Regions from separate parts of the Homo sapiens genome. Here all the other regions are linked to region 1. Evidence: fine-mapped expression QTL. A gene starts in region 1. Each other region holds a variant in brackets. All regions are shown on one strand. Distances are between the middles of the regions.

What was found. PIP is the estimated chance that this variant, and not a neighbour inherited with it, causes the effect.
Region 2: its variant is the best candidate, but not a certain one, in a credible set for the expression of ATG13 in whole blood (TOPMed, PIP 0.85).
Region 3: its variant is the best candidate, but not a certain one, in a credible set for the expression of ATG13 in whole blood (INTERVAL, PIP 0.56).
Region 4: its variant is the best candidate, but not a certain one, in a credible set for the expression of ATG13 in whole blood (TOPMed, PIP 0.63).

Annotation. Positions count from the first base shown.
Region 1 is chr11:46,614,737-46,619,767 of GRCh38, reverse strand. ATG13 (autophagy related 13) reads right to left here and starts at 2,215. Exons shown (of 19, transcript NM_001346311.2): 1 at 1,878-2,215. HARBI1 (harbinger transposase derived 1) reads left to right here and starts at 2,541. Exons shown (of 3, transcript NM_173811.4): 1 at 2,541-2,644; 2 at 3,387-4,200. The coding sequence starts at 3,531. RefSeq lists a silencer at 1,955-2,249 and an enhancer at 2,229-2,408.
Region 2 is chr11:46,496,594-46,501,624 of GRCh38, reverse strand. The region is part of intron 9 of AMBRA1 (autophagy and beclin 1 regulator 1); the gene reads left to right. Among named protein-coding and RNA genes, the nearest start is that of MIR3160-1, 47 kb to the right of the region's middle. The variant A/G (reference allele first, on the strand shown) is at 2,873.
Region 3 is chr11:46,476,187-46,481,217 of GRCh38, reverse strand. The region is part of intron 11 of AMBRA1 (autophagy and beclin 1 regulator 1); the gene reads left to right. Among named protein-coding and RNA genes, the nearest start is that of MIR3160-1, 27 kb to the right of the region's middle. The variant G/A (reference allele first, on the strand shown) is at 2,240.
Region 4 is chr11:46,669,536-46,674,566 of GRCh38, reverse strand. It overlaps ATG13 (autophagy related 13), which reads right to left. Exons shown (of 19, transcript NM_001346311.2): 19 at 49-2,312. The coding sequence ends at 2,235. Among named protein-coding and RNA genes, the nearest start is that of ARHGAP1, 29 kb to the left of the region's middle. The variant G/A (reference allele first, on the strand shown) is at 3,428.

The DNA.
Region 1 (5,031 bases):
GTAAGCCACCCTGCCCGGCCCCTTCAGAGGATTTTTAATAAACTGGCCCACATTTACTCTTCAGTTAAAAGCAAGAAATCGGCCAGGAGTGGTGGCTCATGTCTGTAATCCCAGCACTTTGGGAGGCCAAGGCGGGTGGATAACCTGAGGTCGGGAGTTCAAGAACAAACAGCCTAACTAACATGGAGAAACCCCATCTTTACTAAAAATACAAAATTAGCTGGGCGTGCTGGCACATGTCTGTAATCCCAGCTACTCAGGAGGCTGAGGCAGGAGAATCGCTTGAACCCGGGAGGCAGAGGTTGCAGTGGGCCGAGTTCCCGCCACCGCACTCTAGCCTGGGCAACCAGAGTGAAACTCCGTCTCAAAAAAAAAAAAAAAAAAAAAAAAAAAAAGCAAGAAATCTACCTTCCAAGGACATTAAAAAAAAATCAGCTAATTATTTAAAATAACCTTTAAATCCCTTTAGGGACTTAAAATCCTTTTAAATATTTAAAACCCAAACTTTAGAAAGGTTTGATTCCCTCTGGGCAGCCTCCTTTGCATTCCTCCTGGCTACAGTACCTCTATTCTCTCGCAGAATATTTTCAGTTTTTATTGGTTTCCACAATTTGATAGGAAGCAATGACCAGCAACTCTATGCACTCTCCTCCACTAAGCACATGCAGGAAAAATGACGGTTTATGTAAATTCATCTTACTTAGCTCCACACCCCATGTTGGAAGTTACTTTCGAATATTCCACACCTAAAGTTCAAGTAAACTTCCTTCGAGATTAAGCTCCTGGGCCGGACTCTGTGGCTTATGCATGTAACTCCAACACTTTAGAAGGCTGAGGTGGGAGGATTCCCTGAGCCCAGGAGTTTGAGATTAAAGTTAGCTATGAAGGCGCCACTGTACTCCAGCTTGGGTAACACAGCAATACCTTATCTCTAATAATAATAATAAAAATTTTAAAATCTAAAAAACTAAAAGACTTCTCCTGAGCTGATAAATGGAGAGTTGAAAACAACAAAAAAAAAACCTCATAATTGAGCTGGAGCCACTACATGCACACATGAAAAGGACTAACAGTCATAAAACAACACACAAAATCTGGAAGCTAATTTAGTGTAAAGGAAGAGCTTGTTGTTTCTTATTATAATACATCTCCCACTAAAGGTGTCCAATAAATTCTATCACCTTAGGAGATGAGTTTTAAACTAAGTGTAATGAGAAAATAGGTAATTTTTTAAAATCTCTTTTTTCTTTTTGGCTGCGGGGTGGCCAGAGAACGAAGAAATACCAAAAGTGAAATGCTACGCTGAATTGACCAGGCTAACTGGGAACTCACTGGAAAAGTGAAAACTGGGAAGAATTAGTGATGAGCTCAAGAAGGTGCTTAGCCACTTACCCAGAGATTTATTTAATGAGAATGGATCACAGGTTTCCACAGGTCGTTCCACTGCCAGTAAGAAGACAGTCGTGAACCATGGGTCCCTTTTTTCACTAGTCAACAGTCACCCTCACCTACACGCGGAGTACATATTTGGCACTCAGCAAATCTTGATTGAATGAAAACCTACCTCACTCATATTGGCACCCAACCCCGGAGTTATGGCCCCCCAAATTACCTCCAAAACGCCTGACGACCTAACCCAAGGAGCTGAAAAAGTGGAGAGGAAAGCTCTGGGGTGGAGGGGATTCTCTGCCAAACAAGCAGGGGCCAACGGGGCCTAGACCAACTCAACTTCCCACAGAAAACTCAGGGGCCCAGGGGATTGAACCGTGGCTAATCCCTTCTACTTCCACGAAGCAGCAGCCAAGGGGCCGCAGATCCACAGCCTCCCACCCGGGGGCGCTGAGAGATCTTGGGGTATCCCCCGCAAAAGTTAGTACCTGCGAAGCTGCGGCACAAAGAGTGGTTCCGGGCTCTCATTACGGAGGCCGGGACCTGGGACCGACCAGCCGCGCCTCCTGGCTGAGGGTTCCGCGCTCCGGAGCTGCAGTGACCGTACACGTCGCCGATAGACACCTAAGGCTTCAGAAGGGTCCTGGCTCGCAGGCCCCAGACGTTTTGCTCCTAAGACTCCGCGAGTTGTCGCACCCACGTCGACTGGCGCTCTTCAGTGCTTCCCTCACTGGTTAAGCGGTCACTCCCGCCTTAAGCCCAGCAGCCGGTCGCTTCCCGGCGCCGCCATCGTTAGTGTTTGTTTTCATCCGCTTCGGTAATGGCCGGGGGGGGGGGGTGAAAGAGGGCTACGGGGGAAATCCAGATGCCTAACCTTAGTCGCACTTTCGCTACAGTACGGACGCCCTATTTATTCTTTTAGTCCTCAAAATATCCATAAAAGTTGATTTTCATTCCACGTAAGCTTTCTTCTCCAATCTTTCTAAGCTACTCAAGATAAAACAAAGACGGAAAGGCGGTGTTTGAGAGAGAGAGAGAGAGACCGTTTGGGCCGCGTGTGGAATGTGCGGAGATGAACCGCAGGTAGCCGCGGCAGCGGCAGTGAGGGCGCGGCGCGGGGCGGGCGCTGACGCGGAAGGGGCGGTGCCGCTGTTGCGCGCCGTGGCGGCCTCTGTGCAGTCGCCGGTTCCGGAGGAGGGCCCAACCCGGCTGGGTGGGTGGGAAGTGTGGCTGGTAACCTGGCAGCCGCGGAGAGGTGGGTGACGGGCCTGGGCTAACTGAGTGGCCGGCGCAATCAGACTTTGACATCCGTTTTTAGGGTGCCCTTTAAAAGTGGCAGAGTCGCTTCCCAAACCTGGTTCGGCCAGCCTCTTTTTCGCTCCCGACTTCCAATGTGTCTGGTCTTCCGTACTTCCTGGCCCTCAGGTTCACGATTTGGAGTTCTTGGAGTGAGGGAAAAGCCTTTTGTTACAGCACACAGTGTACGTCCATAAGGCTGGGTTGTGGACTTTGGTTGTTTTTTTTTTTTTTTTTTTTTTTTTTTTTTTGCCCCTTCTTTTCTTGTTAGACTGGTTTGAACACCCCAGCATCTGTCCTGTATTTGTCAGGTGAAACCAGAAGTCTTTGGATAATGAAACCCGTGACCAATTCTTACCCAAGGTGGTTATGACATATGTCAGCTGCTTCTTGGCCTATATAGTTAGAAGCCGACCTCTTTTACCTTGTGAATAATTATGTCATCACCTCCATTATTCTTTTGGTGTTCTCAATTGAAATGCCAAGCATTAAATGAGCCACAAAGATTGAATTCCCATTATCCTTGAATCAGAGCAAGCCTGTCGTGCAGCCATGAGTTAGTGGAGAAAAATCCGGAGTTGTAAGTACAGTACGTTTTGCCTCAACAAAATGGAAATTTGTAGAAAAGGAGCTGCTCCAGCCTTTGAGTCACTTTAAAGTCTTTGGTAGGTTCCTAATGTTTTTTCTTTTAACATTTACAGAGAGAAGATTATAAATGGCAGAGCCATTTAACTGTGGTTAGCTGTTGGATTCTGATACTTTCTTAAAAATACGTTCTTGCACCAACATCTTCATTGGGAACAGTTCAGAAAAAGCAAAGAGGAGAGCCAACATTCACATTTACCATGGCTATACCAATAACAGTGCTTGACTGTGACCTCTTGCTATATGGCCGTGGTCACCGGACATTGGACCGTTTTAAGCTGGATGATGTGACTGATGAATACTTGATGTCCATGTATGGGTTTCCACGGCAGTTCATTTATTACTTGGTGGAGCTCTTGGGGGCGAATCTTTCTAGGCCTACTCAGCGATCCAGGGCTATTAGCCCAGAGACACAGGTCCTTGCAGCATTGGGTTTTTATACCTCAGGTTCCTTCCAGACTCGGATGGGAGATGCCATTGGAATCAGTCAGGCGTCTATGAGTCGTTGTGTTGCCAATGTCACTGAAGCACTTGTGGAAAGGGCCTCACAGTTCATTCGCTTTCCAGCTGATGAAGCCTCCATTCAGGCTCTGAAGGATGAATTCTATGGGTTGGCAGGGATGCCAGGGGTGATGGGGGTGGTTGACTGTATCCATGTGGCCATCAAGGCACCAAATGCTGAAGACCTCTCCTATGTGAACCGAAAAGGCCTGCATTCTTTAAACTGCCTGATGGTGTGTGACATTAGAGGGACACTAATGACCGTGGAGACAAACTGGCCCGGCAGCCTACAGGACTGTGCTGTGCTGCAGCAGTCTTCCCTCAGTAGTCAGTTTGAAGCGGGTATGCACAAAGATAGCTGGCTTCTGGGTAAGTTTGCAAGTGTGAATTTTCATTTTGTTTGGAGGCATAGAAAAGTTATGTAGGCTGGGGGCGGTGGCTCACACAACCCCAGCACTTTGGGAGGCTGAGGCGGTAGATCACCTGAGGTCAAGAGCTGGAGACCAGCCTGGCCAACATGGTGAAATCTTGTCTCTACTAAAAATACAAAAATTGGGCATGGTGGCAGGCGCCTGTAGTTCCAGCTACTCGGGAGGCTGAGGCAGGACAATCGCTTGAACCCAGAAGGCAGAGGTTGCAGTGAGCCGAGATGGCGCCATTGCACCCCCACCTGGGCAACAGAGCAAAAACTCCATCTCAAAAAAAAAAAAAGAAAGAAAGAAAAGGGACCGCACGTGTAGCTCATGCCTGTTATCCTAGCACTTTGGGAGGCCGAGGCAGGCAGATCACCTGAGGTTGGGAGTTTAAGACCAGCCTGACCAACATGGAGAAACCCCGTCTATACTAAAAATACAAAATTAGCCGGGCGTAGTAGCGCATGCCTGCAATCCCAGCTACTCGGGAGGCTGAGGCAGGAGAATCGCTTGAACCCGGGAGGCGGAGGTTGCGGTTAGCCAAGATCGCGCCAGTGCACTCTAGCCTGGGCAACAAGAGCAAAACTCCATCTCAAAAAAAAGAAAAAGAAAAATTATGTAGTGGAGTAGAATGAGATATGGCAGTCTGTAGAGCTGAGTCTCAGTCCTGTCAGTTTTTTATGAGACCTCAGGTGAGAATTTTCTTAGCCTTAATTTTTAAAAAATCAACATTTAATAGACATTATTAAAACTTTAAAGCATACTGTTAGAGCCAGCACAGTGGCAC
Region 2 (5,031 bases), 120 kb after region 1:
GTGAGGAACTACTATGTAGTTAAAACATAAACAGGAACAAATATGGTCAGTGCCCTGAGACTTAGTACTGCATCATTATTGTTGTGCATCTGTATGATTATTGTATGCTTTACATATTTTTACATTATTTTGTATTCATTTATTTTCCAACCTGCTTATTCCCATTCTGGCTCACAGGTGGCTGGAGCCTATCCTGGCAGCTCAGGGTGCACAGGGAGAACCTGCCCTGGACAGGATGCCATTCCGTCACAGGGTGCACTCATGCACACACCCACACTCACTCAGACTAAGGTAGTCTAGGCATGCCAGTTCATCCAATGTGCACATCTTTGGGATGTGAGAGGAAACTGGAATGCCCAGAGAAAACCCACACAGACATGGGGAAGTGTGCAAACTCAGACAGTGGCCATGGCCAGGAATTGATTTTTTTCCCTCATCAACATTATACAAAACAACATTGAATGAAACAACATTATTTGAGTACCAGCTGTAAATGCATGGTCATAGAAACATGAAACAGCATGGAATATTTGGGGAATTGCTTTGTTGATAGGTGTGGCTAGACTGTAAAGTTAAAGATGTGTGGCAGATGAGCCCCTAGAATGGAGCTAGATCTTTGTCTTGCGTGCCTTGCAAAGGAGATGAACTTTATCCCATAGGCAAGAGGGAATCATTGAAGCATTTTAAGTTATGGAATAGCATCAAGTTTTACATAAGTATCTAAAAAGATAGACTGTAATAAGTTACCACTAAAATACTAGGAGAGCATTGTATAAAGGGAGAGAGTATTTGGGGAGAGGTGAGAAAGCTTCATGGATTTGAGCTGGGTATTGAAGACTGCATAGAACTGTGAGAGAGGAATTGATATTGGTGATGGGTATAGCGAGGAGATTCTAGATAAAGGGAGTAGCTTAAGCAAAAGCGTAGAGACAGGAGATTTACAGGGCTTATTCAGGGACCCTGAATAGATCTGTGGCTAGAGCTATGGAGTGTTTGTGATATGAGAGAGATATCAGAAAGCCCCGAACTCTGGATGGCCTGGAATGCCTGGCTGAGAAGTTTGGACTTTGTCTCAGGCCAGCCATCATCCAATATATATTTTAGGCAGCTAACTCTGATAGCATTGGTTAAGGTGACCTAAAGTGACAAGTGTACTGATGCAGAAGTACCAGTTAGAAAGCAGTGGGCATAGTACAGGTGAGGATATCTGAGGGTTGCATTGTAAGTATTGATTGTCTGAGGGCTTGATGTTTTCTAAGTGTGGAGCCTGTTTGTGAATGTTTTAGGGGAACGAGCTTCCTGAAAGCACAGCCATCTTACTTTTCTTGTCTAAAAAAAAAATGCTAAGTCCTTTTTTACTCTTACTGGATCCAGTTTTGAACTAAATTTATAAATTAGCAATCACTGCTTCTTAGAACAGCAGTGACTGGCATTGAGATCACTTGTCAATGCCTGCTGGCCCCACAGCCTGACAGCTATTGTCTACGGAATAGTCCTGGGTTCTAGTCTTGGCTGAGGCTGTGATTTATTATCTGATCTTGAGCCGGCCCCTTTCCCATCCTAGGCCTCAGTGTCTGATGTGTAAAATGAGATTAGATAACCTCAGATTCTTGTAGCTTTAAGCTTCTTGGATCTTTGTTGGAGTTAACTATCTTAGAAAAATTTCCCCTGTCAGCCGGGGGCGGTGGCTCATGCCTGTAATCCCAGTACTTTGGAGGCCGAGGCAGATGGATCACAAGGTCAGGAGTTCAAGACTAGCCTGGCCAAGATGGTGAAACCCCATCTGTCTAAAAATATAAAAATTAGCTGGGCGTGGTGGCGGGCGCCTGTAAACCCAGCTACTCAGGAGGCTGAGGCAGAGAATTGCTTGAACACAGGAGGCGGAGGTTGCAGTGAACTGAGATTGCACCACTACACTCCAGCCTGGGTGACAAAGTGAGACTCCATCTCAAAAAAAAGAAAAAAAAGAAAAATTTCCCCTGTAGTAGGCAGAGGTACAATAATGAAAAGTCTCAGAAAAGTAAGGGGCCTTCCTGAGGATTAAGAATAGGCTATATGGTACCTGTCGAGCCTCAATGTATTTGTAAAATACATACTTTACCTGAATTCTAGCTCTTACTGAGGACTTTGATTTATTGCTTAAAAACGTGTAATATTGCTTAGCAACTTTAGAATTAATACTTTAGGATTCTAGAATTAGAATTACTGGGCAAGTAAAATACATATGAATATTTGTTAAGAGGAATGCAGAAGAAGAGAAAGAAAATGGAACACGTCTGGATTGTGCTTGGGCTTAGAATGGGAAAATACAGCAGGAAAGAATTACGCAGTGGGGGTTTGGGGGAGGAAGACATAACCCTTAGATTTATATGCTTATTTTTTAACATAAAATGCACAATAGGAATGTGGATTTGCATAATGTAGGCAGATGAAATTAAAAGGTAACATAAGGGAGGAGAGGAATTTGTAAATGGTAATTATCTCTTGTATTACCATTCCTTGGAGAAAAATGAAGGCTCTGTAGTTCCAGGAGACCTATGCTATTAGCTATTCCCTATGAATGATATCAGCTGGGGCTGTGCCTTCCTTCCAGAAATCAAAGCCCTTGCATATGTGCACAGTCATTGAAAGTAGAGACTGGGGCCTCAGTTTCTAACCAGCAGCACTCCAGTAAGGAAATGAGTTGACCAAGATCACTGTGCTCTCCAGGGACAGGAATACCAGCTAGGCCTTCTGTTGTCTGGAGATTGAGTAGAAACAGAGCAGCATAGGGAAACAAAAATTTTTTAATAGTCTAATTGTCAGCAAAGTCAACTGTATACTGTCAAGAGGACAGTGGCCTTTTGAGCTTTTTGCTGCAAGAGCTTCATTT[A/G]TAAAGGCCCAAGTCAGAGCCATTTGTCACTGAGGAGCAATGACAACCTGACTGTCTGGTCAGGACTCAGACAGCAGTCTGTAGGTGCATTTTTCATTCCTTCAAATTACAGCCTCTCTCCGAGGCAATTAATCCTAGACATTTAGCAAAAGAGCTGCTGCTGTGTTTCTCCCTTGTTCTGGAAATACATCTTCTTGTATTCAGCACTTATTTTGGATACTTGATTGTTTGAAGGGTGTTTTTTTTCTGGTAAAATCTTTGATAAGAAAGTATTTTTCCCCCTACTCCTTCCCAAATACCCCTCTGAGAGTTAATCAGAGATGCACAGAGTTCAGCAACTGGGAAAGCCATTAATAACCCAGCCAGCTTCTATCCTGCTGGCTCAAAGTCAGCTTCAGGCTGTTGGAATTGATGAGGGTTTCTCTGGTGTTTCCCTGAAAAGTATTCCTCCTATGTTGGAGGAGCAATACCAACATATTTGTGTACTCTGTTCTTCACACTTTTAAGTCATTACCCTTGGAAAGGGTGTTGGCTATGTTGTTAGAGCCCGGTATTTAGCACCCTTCACTGTTCCTAAACTGTCTGGGTCTGCCTTTCTCTCACTTTTCATCTGGCAAATATCTTCCAATTCACTCATATTCAGCCTCTGCCTGCCTGACCAAATTTGTCTCCTTCTATCTCATAGAGCCTTGGCTTGATGTCGACCTTGTATCAGCACGGAAGTGAGTGGCAGATTTCTGTGTAGTTTTCTAAGTATATCATTATTTTAAGTACTTTTAATTCCTGTGCTCTTCTATTGGAACTTATCCCTCTCCCTTCAGTTCTTCCACTAAATATCCCATGCATTGAAATTTCTTTTCCCACCCCAACCCATTATCTCTGAATCTTCCCCTCTTTCTAAACTATAGAATCTAGAGAGTCATCAGTTACTGTTTCTGCCTTTAGTTATTTGGAACTGTGCCTTTGGTCCAGGATTTCTGTGTACCAGTACTAAAACTGATGGCCTTTTCCCCTCTTCCTGTCGAACTCGTCCTTTTGTAGTATATTTTGACCTTTGCCACCTTACCCATTCCGGTATTCAAGGTTTTACCTGCTCAGTAAATGTTTGAGCTGGTTTGGTTATAGGCTATTTTATCCTAGAGGTCTGTGGGTTCTTTTCTCCCATAGGCAGCATCTCATATTGTGTTTATTATGTTTCACATTTTCCTGGTCGTGCTGGGTCCTCTCCTGTCATTTCTCCTTCAGAGTTCTCAACACTTGGAATTTGAAATCTGCTCTGCCTTGTATTGAGATGACATTTAGCTCCTATTTCTCCATTCTTAGCCAAGATGTTAAATAAACTGAGGACCAGCATGAGCACCTCCCCTTACTTAACATGTTGCCTCTTTTATAGTGCCTCGTGTAACCTTCAGTCTGAGACTGCGTGTATTTGAGCCAGCTGATCTCATTCTTGTTTTCCTTTATATATCCCCCACTAATCTCTAAACACTATAAAGCCATTATCTCTGACCATATTTTGCACCCTCTCTTTTCCATCAGTTTTTAAAAATGTTGGTAAAATACACATAACATAAAATTTATCATCTTAACCCCTTCCCTTTATTTTTTTATTTTATTTTATTTTATTTATTTATTTATTTTTGAGACAGAGTCTTGCCCTGTCACCCAGGCTGGAATGCAGTGGTGCACTCTTGGCTCACTGCAACCTCCGCCTCCTGGTTCAAGCGATTCTTGTGTCTTAACCTCCCAAGTAGCTGAGATTACAGGCGCTCGCCATCACGTCTGGCTAATTTTTGTATTTTTAGTAGAGATGAGGTTTCACCATGTTGACCAGGCTGGTCTCGAACTTCTAACTTCAAGTGATCTGCCCGCCTCAGCCTCCCAAAGTGCCGGGATTACAGGCATGAGGCACCACACCCAGCCCCCTTCCCTTTTTTTTTTTTTTTTAAATGAAGGGATAAACTGAATCAGAAAGAAATTATATTTAGGTTTTAATAGCAACAAAAAGATGCTTGTGACCTACGTTGTACGGGCCCACATTTTCCCCAGCCCTGGGGTTTGCCCCTTTTTCTCTGTTGTCTTCTTGTGTTCTTTCACCAAGCTCTGTGTTACCTTTGGGCACTGGCAACTGCTCAGTACTGTCCAGTGCACTGGCTTCT
Region 3 (5,031 bases), 140 kb after region 1:
GGGCGGTGATTACATTCCAAAACAGAGCTGTTTGGGTGTAATTGCACCGTGCTGCTCTTATCAGTCTGGGGACGGCAGGCCTCTGGTCTCCATCCTCATTTGTTTTTGAGATGGAATCTGAACAGCATTCAATTAATAGTCAAGACCCAGGCACAGGGAAGTCAGCCAAAAGAGCCAAGAGGACATTAAGTTGCTATTGGCATTTTCCTTCTACTGAAGTTTTCCAGACCTTTAAGTATCAGCAAATTTGAGGGGGAGCCTAGTTGAGAAAATTTATTTGGCTAGTGAAGGGTTAGAGATCCCTCTTTAAGAGGCTGTGCCCCAAACCCCTCATTGGTCTCTATACGTAAAGGAGAGATAGTTGGATGGCAGTGAAATTTTCCTCTTCTATCAGCAGCTTTAGCTCTGTCAAAAGGTAGTCCTTCCTTGAAATCATTCCCTGGGACTTGCAGTATGTATATATTTTTTTCATGTATGTAGCTTCCAAAGTTGTAGAGCAAAGAGCCTCTCTCTGGTTGTTTTGAGATAATAAGGCTGACTTTGGTTAAACTTCAGCAATAATCTCTAGATCTGGACTAGAAGAAAAAATAAAATGAATTATTTTGTTTTATGACTCAGAGAACAAAAAACTGCCAGTTGCTTTTAAGGTACACATGTTGATCTAGAGCAAAGAAGGAAAAGACGCATGTATTGGGATGAGGGTTGCACAACCCTGGGAAGTGGTATAGCTTTGGCCATTATGTCATTTAGCTTTTGCTGCTGAACAAACCACCCCCAAATTTAGTGGCATAAGACATTTCTTGTTTCTCACAATTCTGCGAGTCCAATTGCAGTTTGCCTGGTCTGCATCATTGGCTCTTCTCTGTGGTCAATTAATAGCTTGGCTGGATGTGGATGATCTTAGATGGTTTAGTAGGTAAAATAATGATCTGCCTAAGAGGTCCTTCCACATCTTAATCCCCAGAACCTGTGAATATGTTACTTTACATGGCAGAAAGGACTTTGCAGTTATGATTAAGATTATAGATCTTGAGGTGGGAAGATTATCCTGATTTATCTGGGTGGGCCTCATCTGATTACATGAGCTATTAAAAGTGGAAGAGGAAGGCAGAAGGGTCAGTCAAGGTGCTGCAATGATCAAAGATGGGAATGGCCTCTGCTAACAGCTAGCAGCGAGTGGGAACCTCAGTTCTGCATCTGCAAGGAACTGAATTCTGCCAGCAACCGAAATGGACAAGGAGACAGACCCGAACACAGGCCAGCCAACACCTTTCTTCTAGCCCAATGAGTCCTTTGTTTGACTTCAGGCCTATAGAACTGAGAGATAATAAATTTGTCTTGTTTAAGCCACTAAGTTTCTGCTTGTTGTTATGGCAGTTATAGAAAACTGATAACAGATAGTTTCACACATGTATCTGGCATTTGGCAGGCTATTTGGCTTCAGCTGGGATGACTTGTCTCCTTTCTATTCACCAGTAAACTAACCTGTGCTTCTTCACATAGTGTCTCAGGGTTGTGTGTGTGACGGAATCTCGCTCTGTCGCCCAGGCTGGAGTGCCGTGGTGTAGTCTCAGCTCACTGCAACCTCCGCCTCCTGGGTTCAAGTGATTCTCCTGCCTCAGCCTCCCTAGTAGCTGGGATTACAGGCGCCTGCCACTACACCTGGCTAATTTTTGTATTTTTAGTAGAGACAGGGTTTCACCATGTTGGCCAGGCTGGTCTCAAACTCCTGACCTCAGAGTTCTGAAAAGAAGCAGGAGAGGTCAAGTCCTACTGCATAAGCACTTTTTGAATCTCTCCTTATGTCATGTTTGCTTTTGTCCATTCCATCAGCTAAAGCAAGCTGTTTGGGTAAGCCCCAAACCAGGAAGAAGACTCTCTAAGGCCATGGATACAGAAGGGCCTAAATCATTTGGGGCCATTACTGTAACATGCTGCCACAACTAAGTAGGCTTTGAAATCTGAGGTAGCCTGCTAGCACACTCTGAACACATTGCTTTTTTTTTCTTTTCTTTCTTTTGAGATAGGGTCTCACTCTGTTGCCCAGGCTGGAATGCAGTGGTTTGATTACAGCTCACTGCAACCTCTGCCTCCTGGGCTCAAGTGATTCCCCGGCCTCAGCCTCCCAGGTAACCGAGACTACTGCACATGCCACCATGCCTGGCTAATTTTGGTATTTTTTGTAGAGACAGGGTTTCACTGTGTTGCCCAGACTGGTCTTAAACTCTTGGGCTCAAGC[G/A]ATCCTACCACCTTGGCCTCCCAAAGTGTTAGGATTACTGGCGTGAGCCACTGCGTCCAGCACAAATTGCTTTTTTTAAAAGTGTCCTTACATATACTGAGGAAAGCTTCAGCATACCAAAGGATATAAAGGTACAGATTTAGAACTTTCAAGAAATATCTTCGGGCATGGTGGTGCATGCCTGTAATCCCAGCTACTCGGGAGGCTGAGGCAGGAGAATCGCTTGAACCCGGGAGGTGGAGGTTGCAGTGAGCCGAGATTGCGCCATTGCACTCCAGCCTGGGCAACAAGAGCGAAACTCCATCTCCAAAAAAAAAAAAAAAAAAAAAAGAGAAAAAAGAAAAAAACAAGAAATATCTTGCCTTAGGTAATTATTTGGGTTATTCAGAGAAATGAATTTAGGAACAACATTCAAATAAAAAGCTGGACCCTGGTTTCCTAGACATAGGATATCAGGGAAACTACCTTTTCTCTTTCTCTGGGTATTTTCTAGGATATAGCCCTGTATTTCTGTGCTGGAGGGTAAAAAGATGTGCAAAAGAGCTCTGTGGGTGGTTGGGCCCCTTGGGGCCAAATGTATTTCTGTGTAGGAGTAAGACTGACAGAATTAACTGTGCAAGCACTTACTAATTTGCTGTAAGTGAACCTGTACCCGTGGCATCATTTATAATCCAGAGCTCCTTGAACAGAAGCAACTCAGAAGAAAAGTTCCTAAAAACTAAGGCAAGGAATTTTTGTGTGCCCAATTACTGTGGCATATTATGCTTTCTTATAGCAGTGGTTGGGAGAAGCAAGAATTCAGCTATTCTCAAGCATAGGACTTAGCTTTTACTTGGCATTATTGAGATTGGTTAAAAACTATTTTATGGGGACCAAATGTGAATTGCATAGATTGGGCCTCAGGTCACATAGAGACAAATTCAGTATATTCACCAGTCATTCTTTTTTTTTTTCATTCACCAGTAAACTAACCTGTGCTTCTTCACATAGTGTCTCAGGGTTCTTTTCAAAGTAGAGAGTTCTTTTAAAATACAAAAATTAGCTCTGGCTAATTTTTGTATTTTTAGTAGAGATGGGGTTTCGCCATGTTGACCAGGCTGGTCTCGAACTCCTGACCTCAAGCGATCTGCCCGTCTCAGCCTCCCAAAGTGCTGGGATTACAGGCGTGAGCCACTATGCCTGGCCTCACCAATCAATCTTTTAGGACTTCCTTGATGTACTTTTAGAACCACCTCAGTCGCTGATGGGCTGGGGGCTCTGCTGTTGATAAACCCTGGATATTATCCTAGGCATGTGCATTCAAAATGGTATAGCCTATGTACAATAAAGACGTGTCCTCAAAGAGGCTGGGCACAGTGGCTCAAGCCTGTAATCCCAGCACAGTAGGCCAAGGTGGGAGGATTGCTTGCACCCAGGAAAGCCCAGCCTGGGCAACATAGTGAGAGCTCATCTCTACAAAAAGTTTTTTTTTTTTTTTTTCCAGAAATTAGCTGAGCTTGGTAGCATGTGCATGTAGTTCCACAGTTCCAGCTACTCAGGAGGCTGAGGTGGGAGGATCATTAGAGCCTGGGAGGCAGAGGCTGCATTGAGCAGAGATCACATCACTGCACTCCAGTCTGAGTGACAGAGCAAGATCCTGTCTCAAAAAAAAAAAAAAGAAGTATCTTTAAAGAGACAAAGACTCTCCCTAATGAAAACTCGGCCTTATCCTTTTTTGTCTGATAAGAGTTAGAGGTTGTGGTGATGAGATTGAGCTAGTGTCCTTCTATTCTGCCTTTACTTTTACTCCTGGGTCCCTTTCCCCTCCCACCCTTCCACCTTTCTCCCTTTATCTGTTGTGGGTCTCAGTATTTAAGCAGATTTTTTTTTTTTTTTTTTGAGACAGTCTTGCCCAGGCTGGAGTGCAGTGGCGCAATCTCGGCTCACTGCAACCTCTGTCTCCCAGGTTCAAGTGATTCTCATGCCTCAGCCTACCTAGTAGCTGGGGGGTTACAGGCGTGCGCCACCATGCCCAACTAATTTTTTTGTATTTTTAGTAGAGACAAGGTTTTACCATCTTGACCAGGCTGGTTTCGAACTCCTGGCTGATCCACCCACCTTGGCCTCCCAAAGTGCTGGAATTACAGGCGTGAGGCACCACACCCAGCCTTAAGCAGAATTTGAACTTGATTTTCTTTAAGGCAGAACTAATAGAGCTAACACAGGAGCTAACTGAGAGCTTATAAAAGCCACAAAGTGTTTCTTGGTCTAAATATTTTTCTGGATTCTGCTGATGTGAAGCAACTGGGGAAAAGTGGTAAAATGTTGTATAGCTTATTTTGCAAACTAATTAAAACTGAAAATATCAGTGCAAAGCTGGAGTAAATTGTTTAAAATGCCCAGTTTCTTCACTCCCATGTTCTAGGTGGAGAGGCCACAGGGACAGTTTAGGAGCACATGCTGTGAATAAGTTTCTGGCTATTCTAATCTATGTCTTACCTGGGAAGAATGTGAAGGTCCTATGGGATAGAAGCAGTACCAGCACCACGGGTTGGCTTGGGACTCTTTACGTATCTCCCCACCACTATTATCTAACCACAAGCCACCCCTAAAAATACACCATCTAAGTGAAAAACAGTGTGCTTGCTCTGCCGGCAGCTTCAAGACAAGTCACCTAACTTGTGCACACCCTACTCGTTCACCTGCCAACCCTGAGACTCATTTATAGAATTTCTTGAGCTGCCACTGGATGGAACTAACAGAGAAATTGGCCATGGGATTTGGAGGTAATAGTGCTGAAGGAAACACTGACT
Region 4 (5,031 bases), 55 kb before region 1:
GGGGAAGGGGTTACGAGGTCTTCAGACAACCTACAGGACAGGAGGCTGTAAAGTACAGAAAAAAATTTATTGGAAATCCCTTGAATACATTTTGAAGTGTAGCTCGGTATTTCCAAACAAAGTAGGTTGGAGAGGTTGGAGGAGGAGGAGGGACTCTGACACCTGGAGACAAACAGCTGGTCCCAGCCTGTCCCGGGGGTGCTGCAGGAGTCAGTCTAGGGCTCATTCCTTTCATGGCAGGTCTGAGGGGCAAGGGCTGGCCTTAACAGTTGCTTTACTTCTCCCAAGCTCAGCTCAAAGTCATGGCTGAGACTCTTCACAGATGGAGCCCTGGTGAAAGGCTGCTGCCACCTGTAGATGCCAAAGATTGCTGCCTCAGACAATGGCTAGGCCTTTCCATGCAAGGCCTTGGAAAGAGAGCAGTAGCTGAAATATGGGGGCATCAATAACTTACCAGGGGCCTTCCCCCTTCTCAAAGCTGGGGCCTTGGGGATAAACCTGAGCCTGGGTTCAGCAAGCCACGCATGTGCTCTGGGCCAAAGTCAGGAGGGCCAGTTGGCTGCTACTGCTTCTGCTAACACTTCTTGGTGGCAGCAGCAGCACGCAGAGCTCTGGTCCCCGCCAGAGCCTGCTCCAATCCTCAGAAGTCAGCCTTGTATGTGGGAACAGTGTCACATGCAGTATACTAACAAGCAGCTGAGAACCACCTGCTCCACTGAAGCACAGCTGCTGCCAGTGAATGCCCCAGGTGGGCCAGGAGGAATGGAGTAGACCTAGATCTCCTTGACCAGGACTACCAGCGAGGCTGGGAAAGGACAGATCATAGGTGGGTGAGGCTAGGCACTTGACTTATTCAAGTAACAATACCTGAAGGGTTAAGTCAATCATACGCCCAGCTTTGATTTCTCAACCAGAAGCCAATCCAGCTGGTAAACCCCAGGGCAGTGTAGAGAACCTGGGATTAGAGGGAGATGGTAGCTAGGCCCAAGCAGGAGGAAAAGCTCCACAGGACAGCCCCAGGGATCAGGAACAAGTACCCAGGCAGTTGGGGGACACACACAACATCCCCTAACCACTACATGTGGCCATCACATTTAGCACCCAGGACTTCCTGGGCTGCCAGAATGGAGTCAGTCACTCTGCAGAAACTGTGGGAGATGTAAGGCTCTCACCAGGAATACGCAACTATCCAAGGTAAAGCCTTTAGTCAGTTCCAGTGCAGCCACACTGGGAGGTGACTTTGCCCCCGGCCAGCCCTCTTCTTGGATCTCGCTGTCTGTATGGTGGGAAGATCCTCAAAGCAGCAGCCCGGATTCTCAATAACCTCCGGAGGAGGAGGTCTCCGTCCCAGGAAGAGCCCTCCGCCTTCTCCAAGTGAAAAACAACTCACCTCAAACATATTTCCTCTATAAAATATCTGGTTTCTCTGAAAGTAATAAATATTTACCATGTTCTATAACCAAGGAGCAGCAACGGGGGGACAAGAGGAAGAGAACTTTGCTGTGACTCCAAGTGACAAAATCCTAGAGATTCAGGGTGCCATTTTTATTTCCCATGGAGCTGAGGACCTGAGCACAGGCAGCCACCAGGGCTGCTCAGACCCTCCCGACCTTCAGGGGTGGGAGTGGTTTTGGAGTTCTGATCTTGGGTAGGCAGGCCTGTCATATTGCCAGAAATACAGGCATAGAGGCAAGAGAGAGAAGAAGAGGAGAAGAAGATAGCAGGAAGTAAAGGGGACAATGAAGAGAGCTAAGGGACTCCTTCCTTCTTCCTCCTGGCACTGTCTCCTTCCTCTTTCTGCGACTCCACACCAATCTCTTGGCCACCAGCTGGAATGTCAAACAGTGGATGGTGACAGCAGGCAGGGAAGGGGCCAGCTGCAAGGCAGGCCCAGGCAGGAGGCCGGCAGCAGGAGGAACAGGATGACACCCTTGGGAAGCAGTTGGTGATGGGCAGGGCACACAGATGGCCCTGCTGAGGGCTTTTTCGTACGAAGGTTCTTCCCATCTCCAAGGCCAGCACGTGAGTCTTCTCCAACTGGGCACTGGGCTTGACTGCCGCCACGGAGTCTCCAGGAGGTCCAAGAGTAGGGACTTCTGGGTCCCCATGGGAGAAGCCAGCCTCCCTTCCACCTGGCTCAGAGCAGGATGAGGGGTGGGAGCAGCTGATGCATGGGAGGCTGCTTATGCCCTGGGGCCACAAAAAGGGGGTGCTGCTGGGACTCAAGGATACTTTTACTGCAGGGTTTCCACAAAGGCATCAAACTCGCGGACATTCTTCTCATGCACAGCCAGCTTCTCTGGTAATGAGTCCTGTACCGGAAAGAGAGGGAAGAGCCGTTTATTCAGGCAGGGCCTTGAGGAGGCAGCCAGCCCAGTCCCGAAGAGGGGAGGCAGCAAGCAAGACGAAGCTCAGCCCTAGCTGGGCCGAGCAAGTGGGAGAACGCAGGGCAGCTGCGTAGGCACAGGGTAGGGAGGGGTATATGCATCAGGGCTTTGCAGGGGCTGGAGGATTAATGGAACGGCCTTGGGAGTCCAAGTGGGCCACACACTTAACAAAAGAGAAAAGGACCACAAGAGCAAGATGATTCAGAAATTAAACATGAAATATCCCTGGCACAGATCTGACTGACACTAGAATAAAATACCAAGTGTACAGCTCTACAAATTAAACAGTTTACAAAAGATTTCTTCACACCCTTTGCTGGGCATCGGGACCCCCTGGGGGGAATGTGAACCAGGTGGCCCCACTATACTACTGACATTCTGACACAGTAGCAGGTCTGTGGTAAGGCCTAGGAATCTGTATTTTTAAATTTTTTTCTTGAGACAGAGTCTCGCTCTGTCACCCAGGCTGGAGTGCTGTGGTGTGATCTCAGCTCACTGCAACCTCCGCCTCCCGAGTTCAAGCAATTCTCTGCCTCAGCCTCCTGAGTAGCTTGAGTAGCCTCCTGAGGCGCCCGTCACCAAGCCCAGCTAATTTTTTGTATTTTTAGTAGAGACAGGGTTTCACCATGTTGCCCAGGCTGGTCTTGAACTCCTGATGTTGTGATCCACCCGCCTCGGCCTCCCAAAGTGCTGGGATTACAGGCATGAGCCACTGCACCCGGCCAGAATCTGTTATCTTTATACCAGCTGAGGAAGGGGTGAGTTAGAGATTGAGAGAGAATGGTAAAGACAGAAGCAGAGGAAAACAGAACTGTGAGAAGTTTAACTGTCCTAGAGTATCAACTATTAATAAAAATGCGTCTCTACTGATGACTAAATGAACAGAAGCTGCATCTGCAGAGTTTCACCATCACAATTTCCTGCCAGTAGGGGTTTAAACACGACCACAAGGGAGCGTGGAGAGTCTCTTGCCTCAGAGTTTTTAATGTGGCCTGGAGACACCAACAGCTGAGGGTGGTTTGGGTGCAGCTTCCTGAAAG[G/A]AGAGGGAGGCCTCAGAACTGGCTACGGCTGTGGCATCAGTTGAGAGAATTGGAGCCACACTTTCTTCCAAGTGCATGTCATGATAGGCAAGGGAGTTTAGTGGTTAAAAGGCTAAATTGAGGAACCAGATCCTCTAAGATCAAGCAAAGCTTTGTTTTGCCTGGGTCTGTGTGACTATGAGCAAGCTAATCATTGTTGGTTTTCTCATCTGTAAACTGGGATGAGAAAACTTACCTCTTAGGGCTGTTGAAGATTCATGTAAAACACTTAGAAAAATGCCTGGCACTCAAAAAGCCTTGATTTTTATTTATTTATTTATTTGTTTTTGAGACAGGGTCTCACTCTGTCACCTAGGCTAGAGGCAGTGGCGCAAACATGGCTCACTCCAGCATTGACTTCCCCAGCTCAAGCAAGCAATCCTCCTGCCTCCACCTCCCAAGGCAGCTGGAACTACAGACGGATGCCACCACGCCCAGCTAATTTTTTGTACTTTTTGTAGAGACAGGGTTTCACCATGTTGCTCAGGCTGGTCTTAAACTCCTGAGTTCAAGTGAAGGCCTCCTCAGCCTCCCAAAGTGCTGAGATTACAGGTGTGAGCCACTGTGCCTGGCCCAAAAGGTCTTGGTAGTAGTAATTATTACTTTTTTTTTTTTTTTTTGAGATGGAGTCTCACTCTGTCACCCGGGTTGGAGTGCAGTGATCCAATCTTGGCTCACTGCAACCCCCACCTCCCAAGTTCAAGTGATTCTCCTGCCTCTGCCTCCCGAGTGGCTGGGATTACAGGTGCCCGCCACCATGCCTGGCTAATTTTTGTATTTTTAGTAGAGACGGGGTTTCACCATGTTGGCCAGGCTGGTCTCGAACTCCTGACCTTGTGATCTGCCTGCCTTGGCCTCCCAAAGTGCTGGGATTACAGGCGTGAGCCACTGCACCTGGCTATTACTGTATTGTTATTACTGGGCATGCTTTTCTCCTTAAAGCAAATCCAGGGCAGCTACCATAGGATCTTAATATCTATTTAGGAGGTGATCATTCCACCTCAAAGAGGGACATCTCCTGGCATGGGGCACCCAGTTTGTGGCTTGTGCGGGGCACTCTTCTGCCCCTCAGAGGCAGGAAGAGGAAATGCCCTAAGCAGAGATGGGGTCATTATAATCAGTATCAGGACATCTGGTCAAGTGTGAGAACTGCTAGATGACGGAGTGAGCTCTCTGAGGAAAGAGCAAGAACACAGATACTCAGGACCTCACAATCTCCTCTGCCCAGTACCACTGGCATCTGCCTGGAAAGCTAAATAGCTAATGCAATGGCTGTTAGAGCAACTTGGCCTAGTGGCATCTGCAAGGAGAAGACGTCAGGCACAGAACAACAGGAGCATGTAAGTAATGCTGAGAATGTGCAGAGAAAGAAGGAACCAAGCTCAAGCAAATTCCAGATAATGACTGCTGGGCACAATGCCAATCTCAAGAGTGATCAAAAGATAATTTTCTAATTATGTCTCTTTCCTATTACAGGGAAGATAGAAGGTGGTAGGCCTCCTAGGCCTTTGGCAAAGGAATGACCATCAAATAAGGATGCACTGTGGTAGAGGAAGACGTTTCCA